Linked DNA regions of Homo sapiens. The protein of the gene in region 3 interacts with the protein of the main gene of each other region in a pairwise test. Each region holds a gene or a part of one and is shown on either strand. Other genes may lie near its edges.

The links. The genes of interacting proteins can lie anywhere in the genome.
Region 1: the proteins of LBX1 (region 3) and IQGAP1 interact in binary tests that used the Homo sapiens proteins (3 or more experiments, as listed by UniProt).
Region 2: the proteins of LBX1 (region 3) and KIF5B interact in binary tests that used the Homo sapiens proteins (3 or more experiments, as listed by UniProt).

Annotation. Positions count from the first base shown.
Region 1 is NC_000015.10:90,391,221-90,398,443, reverse strand, and holds part of IQGAP1 (ras GTPase-activating-like protein IQGAP1), read right to left. Parts: intron 1-7,223. UniProt on the Homo sapiens protein: Plays a crucial role in regulating the dynamics and assembly of the actin cytoskeleton.
Region 2 is NC_000010.11:32,018,224-32,025,446, forward strand, and holds part of KIF5B (kinesin-1 heavy chain), read right to left. Parts: intron 4,814-7,223; coding exon 4,625-4,813; intron 4,035-4,624; coding exon 3,917-4,034; intron 3,065-3,916; coding exon 3,003-3,064; intron 2,909-3,002; coding exon 2,799-2,908; intron 2,177-2,798; exon of another isoform or gene 1,737-2,176; coding exon 1,635-1,736; exon of another isoform or gene 340-1,634; coding exon 279-339; exon of another isoform or gene 165-278; coding exon 93-164; exon of another isoform or gene 1-92. UniProt on the Homo sapiens protein: Microtubule-dependent motor required for normal distribution of mitochondria and lysosomes. Can induce formation of neurite-like membrane protrusions in non-neuronal cells in a ZFYVE27-dependent manner.
Region 3 is NC_000010.11:101,226,394-101,233,897, forward strand, and holds LBX1 (transcription factor LBX1), read right to left. Parts: upstream 3,071-7,504; 5' UTR 2,423-3,070; coding exon 2,098-2,422; intron 1,398-2,097; coding exon 877-1,397; 3' UTR 601-876; downstream 1-600. UniProt on the Homo sapiens protein: Transcription factor required for the development of GABAergic interneurons in the dorsal horn of the spinal cord and migration and further development of hypaxial muscle precursor cells for limb muscles, diaphragm and hypoglossal cord.

The DNA.
Region 1 (7,223 bases), on a different chromosome or scaffold from region 3:
TATAAAATTATCACTGTAAAAAGCATTTTAAATATATAGTACAGTATTAAGTAAAAAGGAAATCTCACACCCTCTACCCCCATTCCACTCCCTAGAAGTATCTTCTGTTTCTGGTGTTTTCCTTCAGATAAAAGCTAAGGTCTGAAGTGAAAAAACTAGGGCTACCAACCTTAGGACCTTGAAAGTGCCCAGAAAATTCCTGTCATCTTCACATTAAATCTGCTTTTCCTTTTGCAGATTTAATGTGAAAATTCAGGAGGCCGGGCACAGTGGCTCATGTCTGTAATCCCAGCACTGTAGGAGGCCAAGGCGGGTGGATCACCTGAGGTCAGGAGTTTGAGACCAGCCTGGCCAACATGGTGAAACCCCCGTCTCCACTAAAAAATACAAAAATTAGCTGGGTATGGTGGTAGGCACCTGTAATCCCAGCTACTTGGGAGGCTGAGGCAGGAGAATCGCTTGAACCCAGAAGGCAGAGGTTACAGTGAGCCAACATAGTGCCACTGCACTCCAGCCTGGGCAACAAGAGTGAGACTCCATCTCAAAAAAAAAAAAGAAAAAAAAAAAGAAAAGAAAAAATTCAGGATATCCTTTATCCAGGTGCTTGGATAAAAGTTTATTGAGTTCAGGCCGGGCGTGGTGGCTCACGCCTGTAATCCCAGCACTTTGGGAGGCCGAGGCAGGTGGATCACGAGGTCAGGAGATCGAGACCATCCTGGCTAACACAGTGAAACCCCATCTCTACTAAAAATGTAAAAAATTAGCCAGGTGTGGTGGCAGGCGCCTGTAGTCCCAGCTACTCGGGAGGCTGAGGCAGGAGAATGGTGAGAACCTGGGAGGCGGAGGTTGCAGTGAGCCAAGATTGTACCACTGCACTCCAGCCTGGGCGACAGAGCAAGACTCCGTCTCAAAAAAAAAAAAAAAAAAAAAAAAGTTTGTTGAGTGCCTACTGTATTTCACTGTGCCAAGCAATTAACCATCACAGCAGCTCTGTAAGATGCATAGCGTTCCCATTCTGCAAAGGACAAATTTGGGCTCACTCCCTGACGTTAAGCAACTTGCAAAACCAGAATCAGAACTCACACCTGCCAAAACAGAAAGTCTGATTCTTTTCACTGTGGCAAGATATCTCAACATTCAAGATTTTCAAAGAAATTTTATTCATACTTTTGAATTTCTATTTTACTTAATTATTCGTACTATGAGAATATAGAGCCACATGACTTTTCTTAATAATAATGGGTACTAACTAGTTCAACTCTTTACATTTCTTAATTTTAAATTTTGCTAGGCTGGGTGCAGTGGCTCACGCCTATAATCCCAGCACTTTGCGGGGGCCGAGGCGGGTGGATCACTTGAGGTCAGGAGTTGGAGACCAGCCTGGCCAACATGGTCAAACCCCATCTCTACTAAAAATACAAAAATTAGCCAGGCATGGCAGTGGGCACCTGTAATCCCAGCTACTCGGGAGGGTGAGGAAGGAGAATCGTTTGAACCCGGGAGGCAGAGGTTGTGGTGAGCCCAGATCGCACCACTGCACTCCAGCCTGGGCAACAGAGCGAGACTCCGTCTCCAAAAAAAAAAAAAATTTTTTTTGCTAAATTTTCAGCTACATGGTAGGGTAAAAAGCTTTCGGCAGCCACATTAGGAATGAATACTCCCCATTTGCAACAGTGTTACAATACAGAAAAGCACTCAGCTTCAACCACTTTTAATAAATACACTTTTAAATGCAACCCACTTCTTATGGTGGAGCCTGTCCAAGGCCGTTGCACTAAATTAATATCCGAAAAAAGAATGGAGGTTTATTCTTAAAATAGTGTATGTCACCATTTTAAGAGTTAAGAATAAATCTCACCCCATACTTCCCCTTGGTAATTATAAATAAATGAATGGATCAGCTCCTAGTGCCACCGTGCCATTACGCAGCTACATGCTATGGTCCTTTAGTCACACTGGGTCTCATGAGATAACTAGACTTCTCATCTGTACAAAGAGAGCTTGGGTCACCATCCTAAAAATGATCCCCCTCAAAATTTAAGTGATGCTCCTCATTTTGAGAATTCTAGAAGTGCTGGGCATGATATTCTTCCTAGTCACCTCACCTACCCATTTTGTTTTCTTGCTTCTTAAATGTCTTAACTTCTATTTTCATGATCCCAGGGTGCCAGCCTGGACATATCCCAACATTCATGGAATTCTGAAATCACTTACAGGGAGAGGAGATCTGAAGAGCCCATCCCAGAAAATGCTCTATGCCAACAGTAAAGACATATGCACAAAAAAGACTTTGTTCCCAAGAACTAATTTCTTTCCAAGATACCTTTTCAATTCCTCTAAATTACAGAAAGTGACATACTTCTACTTAGTGCTAAGCTCGACTTATCACCGTGGAGTTGCTGACAGTCTCCAACCAGCCAGCGTTCCTACCTTCCCTTCTACAAGAGGGGTGTGCCCTATTCCTTGAGCTAGGGTACGGGCACTCAGCAGCAGAAAGGTGGCCCATGACAGACTTGAAAGCGCACACCAGGAATTGTCTGAAACTCAGAGAATGCTGGAATTAACTTTCTTCCTGTGACCTTTAACCTAGCTGAATTTTCTTCCATTTCCAGTACTAATCGTACTTTCTTCTCACTTGCAGAATTCCCTGTTCTGTCCTGCCTGACACGTTCTCTTCTTGGTTCTTTTCACCTGAACCTTATTCTGATCTGTTACTTCCTCCTGTCCAAGACCTAAGCACTGAACATACCTCACATATTTAAATGTTACCTCCTTCAACTGAGTGAAACGGTATTCATTGCTCCTATACAACTGCTCTTTAGCCGGCCGGGCGCAGTGGCTCACGCCTGTAATCCCAGCACTGTGGGAGGCCAAGGCGGGCGGATCACGAGGTCAGGAGATCAAGACTATCCTGGCTAACACGGTGAAACCCCGTCTCTACTAAAAATACAAAAAATTAGCCAGGCGTGGTGGTGGGCGCCTGTAGTCCCAGCTACTCGGGAGGCTGAGCCAGGAGAATGGCGTTAACCTGGGAGGCGGAGCTTGCAGTGAGCCGAGATAGCGTCATTGCACTCTGGCCCGGGCGACAGAGCGAGACTCCGTTTCAAAAAAAAACAAAAAAACAAAAAAAACCCCGCTCCTTAGCCTAAACAAATGTAAAACTCAATAAGAACAGGCAAAAGGATAAAAATAAGCTTCAATTTAAGCATAAATAATAATTTAAGATGTATCCTTGATCTATTGTGCAGCCCTTAGCAAAAAGCCTTGAATCGTTAGGTGATATCTCATTAGAACAGCGGCTTAATTTCAATATTGAAGCTGCTCTCCAAACAATGAAGAAAAGCAGAAATCTCTACATTTTCTATTTCTCAACCACTCCCAGTGCTCATTTATAGGAATTACCCCTAAATTTTCCCAGTTAACCTTTCAGGGAAACACAAACCCACAGCCACAGAAAACTTTCGTCTCTCTACACTTATACTCTCTTACTTATACTCACTGCCTCTACACAGTCATATTCACTCTCTACACACTCCTCTCTTTTCCCAAGAAAGAGCTCTGTTACAGGCAGAGGAGAAAATGGAGTGCCCTAGGATACACAATGGGGCCACTGTACTAAAAGGTGGAGCTTTTAGTAGAAGTAGAGGTATTATAAATAGAACTGAAGAGGGGAAGCTTTTCTCCCTCCAATCTCTATGATCTTTATTCCTGGCCTTAGAGTTACTGTAAATCCCAGATATTGGGGCTCCTCCAACTTGGGAGGGGTGGAGGTTATGGAGGAAACAGGATGGAACCAAACCAAAAAGGCAAACTGGGTCTAGCGCTAGAGGGGAAAGAGGGGCCCTCGGAACACACAAGATACAGGCCGGTTCACCAAGGTAGGAGAAAGAACTGGAAGAGGTTAATAGCTCACTAATAACGAAGAGCATGCCATTTGTCCTTGGTGCACTCACAACACTTTTTAGGGGTGGCAGCAGCCACATAGGTGGCTGACAGGGATTCTAGTCCTCTTTTCTCACCATAACATTCCCAGGCTTCTTTCCTTTGTCCTCTCTAGTTTACAATCTAAATAGGTGCTTCCAACCTTGATTTTTTAAAATCAAAGCCTTAAACAACAACAAAAATCACCACACCCAGTTTTATGATTGCCTCCATAAAATAGACCAGGCACCTTTCCATGATGCCAGGCCAATGGGCAGGGTGTGCTAGGGTAATATGCCACTATTATGCCCTCCCTTAAAAAAAAAAAAAAAAACCTGAAGATCATCACAAATGTCTCCACTGCCTTTTTTTTTTTTTTTTTTTTTTGAGACAGAGTTTTACTCTTGATGCCCAGGCTGGAGTGCAATGGCACTGTCTCAGCTTACCGCAAGCTCTGCCTCCCGGGTTCAAGCAATTCTCCTGCCTCAGCCTCCCGAGTAGCTGGGATTACAGGCACCCGCCACCACGCCCGACTAATTTTGTATTTTTAGTAGAGACGGGGGTTTCTCCATGTTGGTCAGGCTGGTCTCGAACTCCCGACCGCCAGGTGATCCGCCCACCTCAGCTTTCCAAAGTGCTGGGATTACAGGCGTGAGCCACCGGGCCAGGTCAGTTACTCCTTAAGTATGCAAAAGCACTCAACAAAAAAACACCTCAGGGGATCATGCCTGCTGGGTGGTCTTTAAAGGAAATGGGCTACTTTCCTATACTGGAAAAAAACACCTGACAGAAAAAAAGACGCTCTAGAGTAGCTGAAAATAAAATGCCTGGCTAATGCAGAACCTGATGAAGAAATAGGATGAAGTGTAACATTCTACTGAGGTCATGATATCCCAGCATAAGGCAGAGTTTTAAATCTTGTTTCTCAACAGGGGGAGGAGTGGGGGCCAAGGAAGGAGCATCGGAATCACTAGAGACATTTAAAATACAGTCGGCCCTCCTTATCCATGGGTTCTGCATCCATGGATTCAACAAACTATGGATCAAAAACAGTCAGAAAAAAATAAAGAAAGATATAAATAAAACAATACAGTGTAACAACTATTTATGTAGCATTTACATTGGATCAGGTATGATAAGTAATCTAGAGATATATCTAGAGTAATCTAGAGGTATGATAAGTAATCTAGAGATGTTTTCAAGTATATATTATGCAATGTGCTAAGGTTATATGCAAATACTATGCCATTTTATATAAGGAAGTTGAGCAACTGTGGATTCTGATATCTGCAGGTGTCCTGGAACCAAACCCCCACAGATACCAAGGGACTACTATGTGTCTGGATCTCCCACCCCGACCTACTGAACCACAATCTCTATGGTAGGGCCCAGATAGGTGTATTTTTTTTTTTTTTTAAGTTCCCCAGGTGATTCTAATGCACACACCTGGTTAACAACCATAGTTAAAAAAATGATGAGGCCAGGCACAGCAGCTCACGTTTGTAATTCCAGCACTTTGGGAGGCTGAGACGGGCGGATCACCTGAGGTCAGGAGTTTGAGACCAGCCTGGCCATTATGGTGAAACCCAGTCTCTACTAAAGATACAAAAATTAGCCAGGCGTAGTGGCGGATGCCTGTAATTCCAGCTACTCAGGAGGCTGAGGCAGGAGAATCGCTTGAACCCGGGAGGTGGAGGTTGCAATGAGCCAAGATTGCGCCACTGCCCTCCAGCCTGGGCAACAGAGCGAGACTGTACAAAAAAAAAAAAAAAAAGATAGAAACATTCTTCAATCAAGAAAACTACAAGTAGACCAAAAAACTCAGGCTTCAGTTTCTTCATTAAATGAGATGGTTGAACTAGATTAGCAGTTGAACTAGTTATTGGTAGTGTTTGGGGGAGGGGAGGTGTTAGCCAAAACACCCTCTGTAACAAGTGAATTTTATTCAAGAAATTCAACAGTAAAACAAAAGCAGAGCTACTTTGGATGGGGGAAGGAAGGTGTGTTGAAGCTCTTCCCTCTCACCCCCAGGTCACCTCAGTGGAATCACCAAAGCTCCACAGAGCACAAGATGGTCTCTCAGAACAGCTGCAGCTTCCAAATTCTTTGACCTTCCAAACCTTGAAATCCACAATTTAAATGGCAGAGATCTTACAGTTTTTGTTTTCTTATAAACTTCATATGAGAAAATGCCCCCTTTTCTAGTGATATAGCATGCCTTGCTATGTCATCTTCTATTATTTAGAAAGACAAGTGTTATCCTCCTCACTTAAGTCATCACTGAAACCCAAGCTCCAGTTTCCTGGAAGTTTTAAGCTCAGAAAAGAAGCCTAGACACAAGAGGGCATGCAAAATACAGGTTAGTGTTTGCCCCAGGAGAAGGAAGAATGGGACCAGAGGGGCACAAAAAAGACTTTAAATGTAGCGATGTTGGTTTTGTTTTGTTTTGTTTTTAGAGGAAAGGGAAATATCTCAAATGTTAACATTTGTTAGTTCTGGAATACAATGATGTTTGTTGTACTGTTCTCTGGACTTTCTTGTAGCATTTTAAGATTTTCAGAATTAAAATACACACATACACACACACTTGTTTATTAGCACCACTTCAAACACCCTTTTTATTAAACGTTAATTACAAATATTTCATTATCCCTCACTTGACTTTTCCACCAAAGCTCACTTATAGAATACATGATCTATAATTACATCTACCCTGGGACTCTGCAAAAGAACACAAGCACCAGAACAAAAGAAATGAATCACTGATAACAAAATGACACTCTAAAATTAAGACCACAAGGTTGTGGGGCATCTGAAAAAGGAAAAGAGCAGCTTTACATTCACTTCACAAAGAATGCAGAGGATGCTGACTCTGAATATTGCCAAACAGATGGACCTACACCAACAGCACCACGCTTCTAAGCCTCCCAAACCAAGCAGCCACTCCGCAGGTCATAGGAGGAGGAGACTCAATTCATATATAAATCAAAATTCATGAAGCATAAGTGAAACATTAAAGCCAATAACTTCAAATCCTAAAAATGCTATTTCCACCCCACAGTTGGTAACGCCCAAAACATGCACAATAAGCATAAGACTGAACAATAGAAACCTGGAAAACCGTTCAGTACACTTAAATGCCCATCACAGTGATTCATGATAAACTCTCATCAAGGCTACTTATTGCCATAAATAAATACCCTACCTATACTTATTCCCTCAACCACCAGCTTCCCAGTTACATCTATAACATACTCAAATAAATCTTTTCTTTTTTTTCCCCCCACCAAAAACAGGAGTTT
Region 2 (7,223 bases), about 69 Mb from region 3:
GTGACTGTAAAGTTATTTCACTTTGAATACAAATAATTACCTAGAAGTAAGCACCATTTATGCAAACGCCTACCTCGGCATAGTTACATTACCTTTTTAACTCTTGTAGCCAGGTCCTGAACAAAGAGTTTGCGCAGGTTGTGTAAAGTCTGAAGTTCTTTTGCCTTGGATTAAGAACAGCGATATTTTTGGAGCTCAGACTTTAAATTTAGAATAATCATGGTAGAAAAAACCCACAAAATATTTCCCAATCCTGTTTATTTTCATGTTTTTCTTACCACTGTCTCTTCCAAACCCTTCAAGTCTTGTCTTGCTTGTTCTCGTCTATCTTGCATAACCCTAACAGTAGAAGAACAAACATATATTTTCAAATTTTATTCTGTATATTGTACTTAGCATGAGAGTTGAATAAAATATTTTGTGTCTGAAAGGATAAATTCTTAAATTTAAATAAATACAAGATGCCTATTTTAAACAATTTACCTGTGCTGTCTTTCAAAAAAAAAATTTTTTTTTTTTTGACACAGAGTTTCTGTCCCAAACACTGCTCACTGCAACCTCAACCTCCTGGGCTCAAGTGATCCTCCTCACCTCGTCTCCCAAATAGCTGGGACTACAGGCATGTACAATCAGCCCTGTCTAAAAAAATTTTTGTAGAGACGGGGTCTCACTATATTGCCTAGGCTGATTCTCAAACACTGGGCTCAACTGATTCTCCTGCCCTGGCCTCCCAAAGTGCTGAGATTATGGGTGTGAGCCACTGCAGCTTTGCAATTTCAAAAAATTTTCATATGCCTTCTAAACAACAGTCTATTGTTATACATTCCATATATAGCAATGGAAGAGATGAAATAAAATGTGGCAGAATTCAAAGAATAAGGAATAGTTCTATAATTTATATTTTAAAATATGCCACATGTATTATACTGCTATTTATCCAAAATGATACTGATTAATTATAGATTATAAACTGTCAAAGACTAAAATATTTTACATTACAAGTATTCTAAACAAAATTACAGCTGCAAGTTAGCAGAATCTTCATATAATCCACTCTGAACTGGTCCTGATGTTCTAACTATCCTAACAATATCAGTTGATTTGCAAATTGTCTCACAAACTCAAGGTATGTGAAAAATTATAATCATGCACTTTCTACCTGCTAAGATTCTAGAAAACTGAGTTTTGAGAAAATGAGAAAAGGTAAACCATGAAAACCTCTGTTCAAAATGGCAAGGCTAAACACCACAATGCTCTTTTATGCAAGAGAAAATTTAACAAAAACTCAGTTTTTGTGTTAGATCTTAAAATCTTCGAAGTTACTTAATATATTGTTTTAGGTTCATTTTTATGCTGGATCCTGAAGTAATATGGAGATAAAGAAACAGCAAGCAGATTAATAAAGAGAAACCTTAATCTTAACCACAATGAAATATAAGACCTTGCTTTCACTCAAATGCAAGTATATATTCCAAGTATTTAGATATAAATCAAACCAACTCAGTGGATTTAAGAAAAAATCCTTTAGCCCATACAAAGTAAAATATGTATCCACTGGCTATATCCAAAGGTAATGCCTATAATCCTCTAATTTAGCTTTTATTTTTAAACTTTAATTAAAAACAATTACTCACGTAAGTTCATGTAGTTTTCTGCTCTTTTCCTGATCTGTGGCTTTCAACTTCTCATGTTCTACTCTTAGACGTTCCTGCTCTAACATCATTTTCTGGTTTTGGCTGACGAAAGAAAAAAATAATTAACACAGTATCAATATCACAGTTTTCTCAATGTCATCATTAAAATTTCCAAACTTTTAAATTCTATAATCTCATCAAGGACTTTTCTGTTATCCTATACCCTATGGAGGAAAAGAGGAAAGGGACCTGGCTACTTGTGGACATACAAAATTTTTCGTATTTTGGTTTGAAATCATGATTCTGTTCTCCTCTGTCTTTCATCTTCCTGAATCCTTATGCCTACTTCCATCAGGTATTCATAGTAAGACCTACGCCCCAAACCTCATCATTATTTTGTTATGTTATTCTCTTCTTGGTTCCTACTCAAATTGTTGCAAACTCTGACTTCCATAAACTCTATGTATGTGCACATGGTTATGGAGGCAGGGAAATTGCTTCTAGATAAACTAAGATGACAACTTAAAAAAAAAAAAACCTTTGAAAATCCATAGAATTTCCAGAAAAGTTTTTCCCAGTTAAGAATTTTGAGTCAGGGTCTCGCTCTGTCACCCAGGCTGTAGTACAATCATAGCTCACTTCAGCCTCAGATTCCAATACTCAAGCAATCCTCGTGCCACAGCCTCCTGGGTCACTGGGACTACAGGCATGTGCCACCAAGCTCAGCTAATTTAAAAAATTATTTTTTGTAGAGATGGAGTCTCACTATGTTGCCCAGCTGGTCTTGAACTCCTGACTTCTAGTGATCCTCCCACCCCAGCCTCCCAAAGCACTGGGGTCACAGGCCATCAGCCACTGCACCCAGCCAAGAATTTTTTTAAAAAAGGAAACTAAATAAAGGATTTGGAGAAGACTGTGGTATGCAATAATAGACTTAGGTTGGGGATTTTTTTCTTTTACTGAATAATTTAGATCAAAAGACCTAAAAAAAAGCCTCAAAAATTTCACCTGGAATTTAGAAGTTTTACTCATAAATGAGAAAATTCTTTATTTTCCAAGATAAAAATGTAATTTTGATGAAAACTGCAGGTTTCTAATAAGAATATATACCATGACCATCAGTAACCGATTCTTTCCTCCTAACTAGAGAAGTATAATACTTACTCTTGAAGATCAGTAATAAGTTTTGCTTTTGCTTCTACTTCATCTCTCAAACTACTGATCTGTTTTTGATGAGTTTCTCTATGGCTCTGGATCTGCTGTTCAACAGCTTGCTAAAATTTTGGGGGGGAAAAGGATGTTAAAGTCAGACTAATCAAAATTAATACTGATTAATTAAAGCTGTTAGAAATGTGACATCAAACTTGCCTTAACTTCATTTGCAGTCTGAACCTTATTTAAGTGCTCCTTTTCCATTTCATGGACTTTCTCTGTTTGAATAGAGAGAAAATAGAAGAGTGAAATAAGCCTTTAAGGTTCCTCATATAAACCAAGGAGCAAATGGATTTTACAATAAGCATTTTCCTTAGCAATATTCAACTTCAAATTACCCAAATGTCACCTGCTCTCCAAGTTCAATGACATGTAGACTAGTATACAAGTTACATCCATTGTGTTGGTATTATGTATTCCTTTATGGTTTGTTTGGTTTTTTTTTTTTTGGCCTAATCCAGAACAGATTAGTTAAGGGAATGGTAAAGAAATGAGATAACTCCTAAGTCCCCTATGTTAAGACACACACACACACACACCCCGCTTCGTAACTGTGGGAAATCCCCAGATTGGCTATTTCCATATTCAAACAAAATCTTAAAAATATATATATATATGTTTTGACAGGCACAGTGGCTCATGCCTGTAATCCCAGCACTTTGGGAGGCCAAGGCAGGCAGATCACGAGGTCAGGAGATCAAGACCATCCTGCGTAACACGGTGAAGCCCTGTCTCTACAAAAAAGGTAAAAAATTAGCCAGGCGTGGGGGCATGTGCCTGTGGTCCTAGCTACTAGGGAGGCTGCAGCAGGAGAATCACTGGAACCCAGGAGGTGGAGGTTGCAGTGAGTCAAGATAGTGCCACTGCACTCCAGCCTGGGCAACAGAGTGAAGACGCCGTCTCAAAACAACAACAAAAAAATGTTTCAAAGCAACATTAATATGTATGATTTGTTTACCATTCGAAATCAGCCATATTCCTACTATTTCTTTCAGTGTGAATATTAAGTTTACTACAATTATACTAAAATAAGAACACAGATGTAACTCATAAACAGTTGGAAGCTATACCTTGTGCTCGAAGCTGGACTAGTTCTTCACTGAGGGCATCGACAGATTCCTCCAACTGTCTTTTCTTTTGTTCCACATTTTGAAGGTATTCAGTCAATGACTTGATTTTGGCTTCATGCTTTTGGAAAAAATATACTGATATGAAGTGGAAAACATATGCATACACTTTAAGAATATTTGACAGTAAACATTTCATTATCTATATATGATAAATTTGGGAATATTTAAAACTAAAATATTCAGGAGCCAATTTTGAAATGTTAAAGAATGTAATCAATTAATTCATTGGTGATCATAACTTGCAAACTAAGGCACTGAAGACTCAAATATGAAATACTAATTTTACAGATACCACCATCTAACGTTACCATCTTCCCTCCTTGTGAAATTCTGATAGTGGTGAATGGCCCCATTCATTCAGTTGCCAAGCCAGGAAACTGGTTCCCTGCAGTTTTGCCCACCCTGGAATTCTGAAGTCTTTAACAAGTTACCACCAGTCACATCATTCTGGTAAATTTCTATACATAACCCATATTTATGTTAGGCAAATATAACTCAGTTAAATCATTCAAATTTACTGCAGCTAGACTAGGAAAAAAACAACTAAATTTCACCTATAGACACACATTTTTCTGAAAACTTGTATAATAAATAAAATTTCTATGTGGCTGTTTCAAAAAAATGAATAAACTTTGTTCTATAACATACTTGAGAGATACGAAGCTGACATGCTGCTAACTCCTTTTCATTTTCTTCCATTTTTTTGTTGCTCTCAGTTTGTGTGCTTTCTAACTGCTTGCAACGTTTCACCATGGTTTTTACTTCTGACTTCATTTTGCTAATGTAGAGTCTTGCAACAGTGAACTCTTCATCTATCATGCCAGTTCCCTCAGGCTGCTGTAAGGAAAAAGTAAAATAAAAAATTAAAGCCAAAAATGTTCAATGTGTGTTTTCCCAATTAGGCTATAAAATCTTTTTATAAAATATATTTTAGTATTACTCAATATTCATACAAAGTCTGGATCTTATTTTTTTCTTTTATTACTGTTTTCAACGAAAGGTAAATAAATACAGCTTACTTTTTGCCTTCCTTTTTTTAAAAACTGAGAATAATGTTAATACATGCCAACAAGAAAAATAAATAAATGTAAACCTAAAGAAAACACAAAAATACAACCAAACTAATAAATTCTGCCTCTTTCAATTTTTTCACTTCCTCTTTACAGGACCTCTTCAGTAAATTCATTGTTAATCATGTGCACGTTCAGCTTAAAATTTAACAAGAGGATGTTTAGGTGGCAGGGAAAGGATGAACTTTAAGCTCAACCAGAAGGAATTGTGGTCACTGTATATTCCTTCACCTTCAGGAAGAAATAAAACTGTGCAGATGACATGATTAAGTTTACATGTAAAGTCAAAAGACCCTGAATAGCTAGCACAACACTAAGGACAAACAAAGTCACAGGACTTGACACTATGCAACTTACTGTAAAGCTATAATAATCAAAACAGTACAGTGCTGGCAAAGAACAGATAAACAGGTTAACAGAACAGAATAAAGAGCCCAGGAATAAAACCACAAAATACAGTCAACTGATCTCTGACAAAGGTGCAAAGGCAATTTAATGGAGGGAGGACAGTCTCTTCAACTGGACATCCAGATGTGAAACAATGAATCCTGGTACACACCTTACCCCTTTCAGAAAAATTAACTCCAAATGGATCATAGATCTAAATGTAAATGCAAAACTGAAAAAAAAACTTTTAACACAGGAGAAAATCTAGGTGATATTGGGTTTGGTGACAAGTTTTTAAATACAATACCAAAAACACAATCTATTAATGTAAAACTTGGTAAGTTGGACCTCATTAAAATTAAAAATTTTTAGTCTCAAAAAATGACGTTGAGAGTAAAAAAAAAAAACAAAAAAAAAAAAACAAGACACAGAGAAATAATGCAAAACACTATCTGATAAAAGACTTATATCCAAAACATATGAAGAACTCTTTTTTTTTTTTTTTTTTTTTTTTTTGAGACGGAGTCTCGCTCTGTCGCCCAGGCTGGAGTGCAGTGGCGGGATCTCGGCTCACTGCAAGCTCCGCCTCCCGGGTTCACGCCATTCTCCTGCCTCAGCCTCCCAAGTAGCTGGGACTACAGGCGCCCGCCACTACGCCCGGCTAATTTTTTGTATTTTTAGTAGAGACGGGGTTTCACCGTTTTAGCCAGGATGGTCTTGATCTCCTGACCTCGTGATCCGCCCGCCTCGGCCTCCCAAAGTGCTGGGATTACAGGCGTGAGCCACCGCGCCCGGCCGAAGAACTCTTAAAACTCAACAATAGGAGGCCAGGTACGGTGGCTCACGCCTGTAATCCCAGCAATTTGGGAGGCTGACGCGGGCAGATCACCTGAGGTCAGGAGTTCAAGACCAGCCTGGCCAATATGGCGAAACCCAGTTGCTACTAAAAATACAAAAAATTAGCCAGGTGTGGTAGTGGGAGCCTGTAGTCCCAGCTACTCGGGAGGCTGAGGCAGAAGAATTGCTTGAACCCAGGAAGAGGAGCTTGCAGTGAGCCGAGATCATGCCACTGCACTCCAACCTAGGCGACAGAGCGAGACTCCATCTCAAAATAAAACAAAACAAAACTCAACAACAGGGCCAGGCGCAGTGGCTCATGCCTGTAGTACCAGCACTTTGGGAGGCTGAGGCAGGCGGACCACCTGTAGTCAGGAGTTCGAAACCAGCCTGGACAATATGGTGAAATCCCATCTCTACTAAAAATATAAAAATTAACCAGGCGTGGTGGTACGCGCCTGTGTTCCCAGCTATTTGGCAGGCTGAGGCAGAAGAATCACTTGAACCCAGGAGGCGGAGGTTATGGTGGGCCAAAATCACGCCACTGCACTCCAGCCTGGGTGACAGAGCGAGACTCCGTCTCAAAGAAAAAGAAAACCTCAACAATAAGAAAAAACACAACTGCAAATTAAAATGACAATAAAATAACACCATACATTAGTAAAATCCCAAGAAACTGACAAGAGCAAACACTGGCAATGATGTGGAACAGCAGACTCTCATTCATGGCTGATAGGAATGCAAAATGTTTCCACCACTTTGGAAGACCATTTGGGAGTTCCTTACAAAGCTAACATAGTCATAACGTACAACCTAGCACTTCTAGGTATTTTTACTCAACTGAACTGAAAATTTATGTCCAAAGAATAACTTACACATGAATTATTATTATTTTTTTTGGAGACAGAGTCTCACTCTGTCACCTAGGAAGGAGTGCAGTGGTACCATCTTGG
Region 3 (7,504 bases):
GGGCTTGGGTCGGCCTCCTCTCTGTCTCTGTCACATGCAAAAAAATTCTAAAAAGAGTACAAAATAATTATAGGGCTTTGGGTTCTGTTTTCGATAGTTGGTTGGTTGGATTTCCCCCTGCATTGTCCCTAAGAGCCGGACTCCAACAGTCAGTCCGAGGAAATGCGGGAGGGAGGGAGGAATCTTAAAAACAGCATTAGTGGGCATTAGGAGGCAGAAATGGCATCGAAAACAGACTTTTCTCTCAGAGGGTGGGGAGGAAAGATCGATTTTGAAACTTGCAAGTCAGGACCTGACTGCCCACCTCTTCCCCTCCCACATGAGGAAAAAAGGCCCGAGGAAATAGAAGTCAACTGCAATAAGGCCGAGGGAGGCGAGGAAGGAGCGGGCCGGTGCATTCGCCACATGCAGAGAAAAATCAAAACAGCCGGAGCTGCCACTCCCCTAGACCGCAGGGTTAGTGTTCCCCGCCCTGGTTTCTGTCTCGCCCTCAGCAAACCCGGCAGCCCGAGAGCTTTGAAAACATCGAAATCTCCGAGATTTAAAAAATAATAATAAAAGAAAGGAAAAATCAGGCTGCGGTGGGAAGAACCCGCTATATAGGTTTAAATATTTATATAGAAGCCATACAGAATTGCACGGCGAGGGCTTCCGGGGCGGCGGAGGCCGCTGGTGGCGGCCGGCCCGGCCGGCCAGCCTGGGTTTATTGCTTCGAGAGGGAAGAGGCGGCTGCCAGGAGCCGAGTCCGGGGCCGGGGACAGGGGAGGAGGCGGGAGTTGGCAGAGGAGGTCCCAGCTCCCCTCGGCGGTCCGGTCCGGGAGGCGTTGGGCTTTCGAGCGCTAGGAGCCCAGGGCGGCGGAAGACCCGGGGCGCCGCTCAATCGTCCACGTCGATCTCTTCGTCTTCCTCGTCCTCCGAGCAGTCCTGGCTGCTGGCCGGCTGGTCCGTGAGCGGAGAGGCAGGCGAGAGCTGCAGGGCGCCAGCGCCCGGGGCCTTCGGGGCGCCTGGGGGGAGGACCGGAGAGCCGGGCCTCGACTTGGCCCTGCCGCAGCCGCCGCCACCGCCGGCTGTGGCCTCCGAGTTCTGCTCGAGTTCGGCCAGCGCCACGATGTCCATCTGCCCGCTGGGGCCCAGTTTCTTGGCGGACTCTACGTCGGCCTTCATCTCCTCCAGGTCCCGCTTGAGCTTAGCGCGCCGATTCTGGAACCAGGTGATGACTTGCGCGTTGGTGAGGCCCAGCTGCTGCGCGATTTGGTCGCGATCGGCGGGGGACAGGTACTTCTGGTATAGAAAGCGCTTTTCCAATTCATAGATCTGGTGGTTGGTGAAGGCCGTGCGCGACTTTCGCCGCTTCTTAGGGGTCTGCCGCTGCCCAAAGATGGTCATACCGTCGCGGCCTGGGAGGAAAGGACAGTGTAGGCTCGCGTTGGGAGAGAGGAAGCCCACCCTGGCTCTCGCCCCCGTAACTCCGTAACCCACCCAGGCCTGTCCGGCCTGCAGTCTACCAATGTTCCCTTCTCAGATTTAATTCAGCCTCCAGGACCAGGGCAAGTCTTGGCTATGGCAAACCATCTCCTGTCTTTGGTCTCCCAGAAGTCCCTAGGAAAAATTGTTTTGGTCTCTGCCCCCTACCTAAGAGTTGGTTTGAAAGACCCAAAGTCTCTAAGGGTATGAGAAAGCCAGACAGAGACACCCTAATTGCGGTGTGAATGTTGGTTCTCCATCCCTTCCCAATCACTTCAACTCTACCCTACCCATAAGGTCCCCGGCAAAAGACTCTCGATTCCCCACGCCGAGTAGCCGGGCTAAGAGCGCCCAGGACACTGGGAACGCAAGGGAGCCCGGCAAAGCAAGCAGACTGCGGAAAGAGCTTGGCCACCCTTCTCCTGCCACCCCCCAGCTCTGGCCTACCCAGAGGTCCCTGGGAAATAAGGATTGGGTCCCGTCCCACATATCTTCACTCCCATAAGCAGCTGCTCAGGCTGGAAGGCCCTGGCGGCCGGAGAGGGCAGAGGCGAGCAGAGGCATAGGGGACGAAGCGCGCAGGGCACAGGGCGCGAGGCGCTGGGTGCAGGGGAACCCAGCAGCTGCGCCTACCTTCGGCTGCCTGCAGAACGCTGACCTCCAGCCCCTTAAACGTCTTGCTGGCGAGCTCCTCCAGCGCGCACAGCGGCGAGGTCTGCGAGAGCAGCGCGCGGCCCGCCAGGGGCAAGCCGCCCTGCGCGTGCTTGTCCGCGGCGGCCAGCAGGTGCGCCGCCCCGCACAGCGAGTAACTTCTCCGCACAGACGGCTTGTTGAGGATGTCCTCGATGCTGAACGGCGTCAGTGGCTTGTTGGAGTTGGCAGGCGGAGGCAGGTGGTCCAGCGGGCTGCGCCGCCGCTCCTCCCCCGGCGCCGCCTTGCCGTCCTCCTTGGAAGTCATCTCGGCCTTGTTCGGGGTCCCGGCCGGGGCGGCTCGGGCCGCGGGGACCCAGCCCGCGGGCAGCTCGGGCGCCGGACGGCGCGGGCAGGCAGCGGCGGGTGGAAAGGAGGCCGCACTGGGCAGGGCGCGGGCCGGGCGCGGGGCCGATTAGCGCGGCGGCTGAGGAGGGGAGAACAGCGCGGGGCCCCGGGAAGAGGGCGCTGACGCGGGCGCCGCTGCTGCTGGGGCTTCCAGCAATCCGGGGCCGGAGCCGGGGCGCGCTGCGCGGGGCTCCAGTTTCGCCAACCCCGGTGCTATTTAAAGGTGTCAGGTGGCTCGGCAGTGGCTCCTGGCCCCGGGTCCTGGCGGCCGCAGTTGGAAGAGCCGAGGCGAGGGCGCCGATCCCGGACTGCGAGGGAGGCGGAGAGACGGGGCAATTGACTATTGCTAACAAGTTAGCCTTGATCGCGGTGTAATCAATTATCTGCAGCGGCACTTCTTTCTCTTTCTCTCTCCTTTCTCCCTTTTTCCTCTCTTCTTTGCCTCTGTTCTCTCCTCCTGTTCTCGCTCTCCCTCCCTCCCTCTCTCTTCTCTCTTCTCTGCTCCCCCCTTCTCTCTCCTTCTCTCCCTCTCCCTCGCCCTCTCTTTCACTCTCTGTCTGTCCAATGCAGGCGGCTGTAAGTTGGGAAGCTCATTAATTAGCGGGCCGGGGGTAGGAGGAGCCGGCTGGAATTAGCCTGCCTAATGCGCCTGTCAGTCCGGGCGCTGCGCTGCGTTCGGCCCGAGCTGTTTGTAAATTACATTAGCTGCTCCTTTATTGCACCCGAACCTCGGGCGACTGAAAAGCCACCGCCCCCACCCCAAACTGCGAGCCGCGCTCCTGGCGCACCCGCCTCCCGCCGGCCTAGCTGCAATGACCGCACCGGCCCGAAGGTCTCGGTCTCTCCGACCCGGGATGTGGAGCCCGAAAGAGTGGTGGGAACCCCAGCCCGGGAGGGACGCGGCCGCCGCTCGGGCCAGGTAGGACCAGGAGCCCGGGTGGGCCCCGCTGCCACCCAGAGTGGACTTTGCGGAGCTGAGATCAAGAGCCCAGCGCCTCTACCTCTGACCCTCTTGCCCCTCACCCCACTGCCTGGGCGACGCGCCTGGGGAGAGGGAATCTGAAGCCCTCCTGCGCTGGCCCGCAGGAGGTCAGAGCCGGCTGCGCAGCCTTGGGTGGGCGACGCGGGAAGGGGGTGGAGGACCCCAGGGGTTGGGGGAGGGGGCTAGTCGGAGAGCTCAGCCTTCTCCACGCGGAGAGGCGGAGGAGGGAATTGTTGGCGGCTCTGGACGCCTCTCCCCGGCCTGATTCCGAAGCGGCCGCCCTACCTCCTCCGGCAATCTTGCTCACTTTCCTCCGGCAGCCGCTCCCCAGGCTGGCTGGGGCCACCAACGGCCTGATGATGGGCGTCTGAAGAGTAGCCAGGCCAGGTGCCGGGGCTAACGGGGCCGGCTCCGTGCCTCCCTGCTGCGCTCCGCCCGGGCCCCGGCCGGGGCCCCGCTGCCGGCCCCGCCTAGCCCAGCGCCCGGCTTGAGTGCATGGCCAGGCCGACTCCAGCTGTTCCGGATGCGGGGCGGGGGCCCGGCGGGAGCCAGGCCGCGGCTGGGGCTTTGCTCTCAGGAACTCGCAGGGAGGCCAGGCTTCCAGTTAGGCTGGGGCTAAAGACCTTAGGGCCCGGGATCTGTGAATATCGGGAGAACATGTTGTGTGCATTGTTACTTGAAGGTGTTTGTGTTTTTGAATGTGTGTTTGTGTGTGTTTCTCCATGCGTATATTTGTGTAAATGTGTGTGAACCTGTGGGTATATAGGTGTGTTTGAACTCAGCTATTTCTTTCATTTCCCTGAGGCATTCCAGCAGGGCTGTGCCCTCAGGCCTTCCTGTCTTGCTACCCCATTCTGTTTATGTGGGGCCACTGGCCTCCTTACTAATTTTCCATTTCTGCCCTTGGAGAAAGGAGGGGAGGACCTAGAGGGGGTTGGAGTCCAGGGAGAAGGGCTGTTCCCCTCCCACACACACACAGCCCTGGCCCTGGCTTTGTTTGTAAACTCCTGGGTGGGCGGTGAGGTTGGGCATTGGGCAGCACCGCTTGGACCAGAAAAGGGCCCAGAGAGGCCAAAGTGAGGATTTGTGGCCCAGGCCAAGGGTTGGAATGGGAAGATTAGGATTTCTTGCCCCCTCTCCCCTCATATCTAACCCCAGAGAGGGAGTGAGCTAAGCTGGGCTCCGGGGCGGGAAGCAGGTTCTTTCTCTGGATGCCTCAGCGTAGGGGGCCTCTGCACAGCAGAGATAGGTTTCATGATCTCACCTTCAGTTGTTTGTTTGGAATTGTGGCTGGCAGCTCTCTGGGGTAAAAAGGACAGTGTAGGGAGAAAGGGTTCTTGTTTGGTGCCCCAGTTCTGTGAATGTTGGGAAGAACCCCTACCCTCTAACTCATCTTTGTCCTGCATTTTCGGGGTGGCAGTAAGCGAGTGGGGGGAAGACAAATGCTCAGAGGCAGGATTGGTGAGAATGGGAATCACAGTTCCCTCAGAGCTGCAGACCCACTCCAGGGCAGACCTGTCTCTACTCTTCTGCGCTGCCCTGGGAGCCACGAGGTGCTGCTGGGCCTAGCAACAGAGGAGTCAGAGCCTAGAGACCAGCAGAGGCGGACCGGTGGGAGAGGGCGTTGGGGAGCTGAATCTGGGTGGCTTGGAAGCTCTGGGGCCAAGAGGGGTCAGTCCTCTCACTTCCTGCCCTCAGGATCCCATTTCAGCCTTTTCCTGCCATAACCCCAACCCCCTGACCCAGAGCCTCAGGCAAGTGAGGCTAGCAGGGAGGCAGGGAGGCCCCTCTAGATCCAGGAACAAGGACCCTTGGATCCCAATAGAGAGAAAGAGAGAGAGAGAGAGAGAGAGAGTTCCTCCCATACTTCCACACCCTTCCTGTCCTCTTCAGTCTTTGCATCGCATCTGGTACTAGCCCACAGGATAGGACTTTAAGGACAAGCCAATCCCCTGCTGTTGCCCATCTCCCAGATCCTCAAGACCAGCGGAGTTCAGGGTTACTGGGAAGCTGACAGGAAGGGGAACATGAACTGGGGAGCAGAGGGGTCCCTCTGCTTGGCGTGTTCTTAATGTCTTATCCTGCTGGCTAGTACTGAGATCTTTAGTCTTCAGCCACACCATGTCAAAAGGAACACGACGTCTCACAATCATCTGCTGAGTTACCTCCACCACCAACACCAAACCTCTTCTTCCCTGGCTGACCTGTACCTGCTGTCCAATCCTATGGCTTGGCTCTTTTGACCTAATTGGTTGGCCTCTTGGTTAAACACACTTGGGCACACCATATGGCTGGGGTGTGGAGTGCAGTGTGAGGTGCAGGGATGTGGGGAAGTCTGTGGTATCACCCTGTGTTTTGTTGTTTTGATTCACCCAGATCCCCTTATCCAGGCCACCTTTGGAAACCAGCCCACCTGCTACACCAACCTTTTCCCAACACCGTGGTCCCACCCCTACCTTCGCTGCTGAAAAACCGCATTGTGTGGGGGTCTGGAATCTTCTGGACTCCTGGGACCCCAATCCGCTTGCCTCTTGTACCCCTCTTGCAGAGCAATGAGGTATGTTTTGGGTTTGTGTACTGACCCCTACCTGCCTCCTCTGCCAGACCTGAGGGCAGGAGCCTTCCTCTGGGTATTCCAGTTCATCTCGGACCTTCGAAGTCCTAGGAGACACCGGGCTCCCGCTGAATATCGGTTGAATGACTTTCCATAGAGCAAATGGGGTATACATGATTGTGCAATGTGGAGGGGAATGGTTTGGGCCCCTCAGAGGAGTTTAGAGATTAGGAGGATTCCAGAAATGAGTAACACAGGGTCAGTGGGGGTAGAGCCAGCCCTGACATTCTGGGCTCCAATCTTTCTGCCCAATCCCCTACTGAGCCCCCATGCTGGGGCAAGGCAGACACTCTGGGGGTCTCCCCACCCCCAGTCAGCTGGGCCAGCATCTTCTCACCTGGAGCTGAAAGCAGCTGATTCCCAGAGTCTGCTCCACAGAGGGAATACCTGTCTTCAGAGCATAATCTATATGCTACCATGATCCTCAATTCCTGTTTGCTGCTTAAACAGCCAGGGTCCAGGTTTATTCTTTCTCAGTGGATAGGGAAGGGATCATTCTGCCAAAAATCTGCTTTCCCTCAGTTTAGGGAATATTCCAGACAAAGAAGAGGGAAACAGCATTTCATGAATTGCCACAATAAGGGGACCCTGCAGACCCAAACAAAACAGGTTAAACCTTAACACAGGAGAAGAATTCGCTTAAACCCCCAAAGACTCCATTGGATTCACTCTGGATTGTTTTGGTACCCCCATTCATTTCCAGATTATTTGTATAAGCACCAGCATTGACTCTCAGGCCAGAGTTCCTTTAGAGAAAAGGGTCTGACACTGCTTGAAACAAGTTAACTTGGCCAGCAGTGCGGATCATTTTACTGTTGTTGTTGTTGTCCCATGAAGACCTGCTACTCTGACACTCTGTGTGGAATTCAGAGTGTTTCTTCTCCTATGGAAGTGGACTATGATAAACGGCCTCCTGCCACCCAGGCTAAGTCAGGACTGCCCACTTGGTTTTTACATTTTGCCCTGGGCCACTGTCTGCAGTAACAGCAACAATAACCATGACAATAAATACCATAAGCCCTTACCTTGTGCCTGGCTCCAGGCTAAGAGTTTTATTCATTTCATTTATTACTCACAATCTTTCTAGGTAGCTATGCTCTTACCCCGATTTTACATAACAGGAAAATGAGGCCCAGAGAAGTTAAGTAACCCATCCAAAGTCACACAGCCTGTTTTGGAGTGATCAGGATTGGAACACTGTCCTTTTGTTTTGTTTTGTTTCTTATTCAAGTCTGTCCCCTTAATTCCTGAACCAGGGGGTTCTTAACCAGAGGTCCCCCAAGGGCTCTTTGAATGGGCTTCAGGGGCTCTGTAAATCTCAGAAATTTATATGTGTACCCAGGTGGGCACATTTTTCTGGGAGCAATATTATATAACACCCAGGATTCTCAAAGCGGGTGGGGATC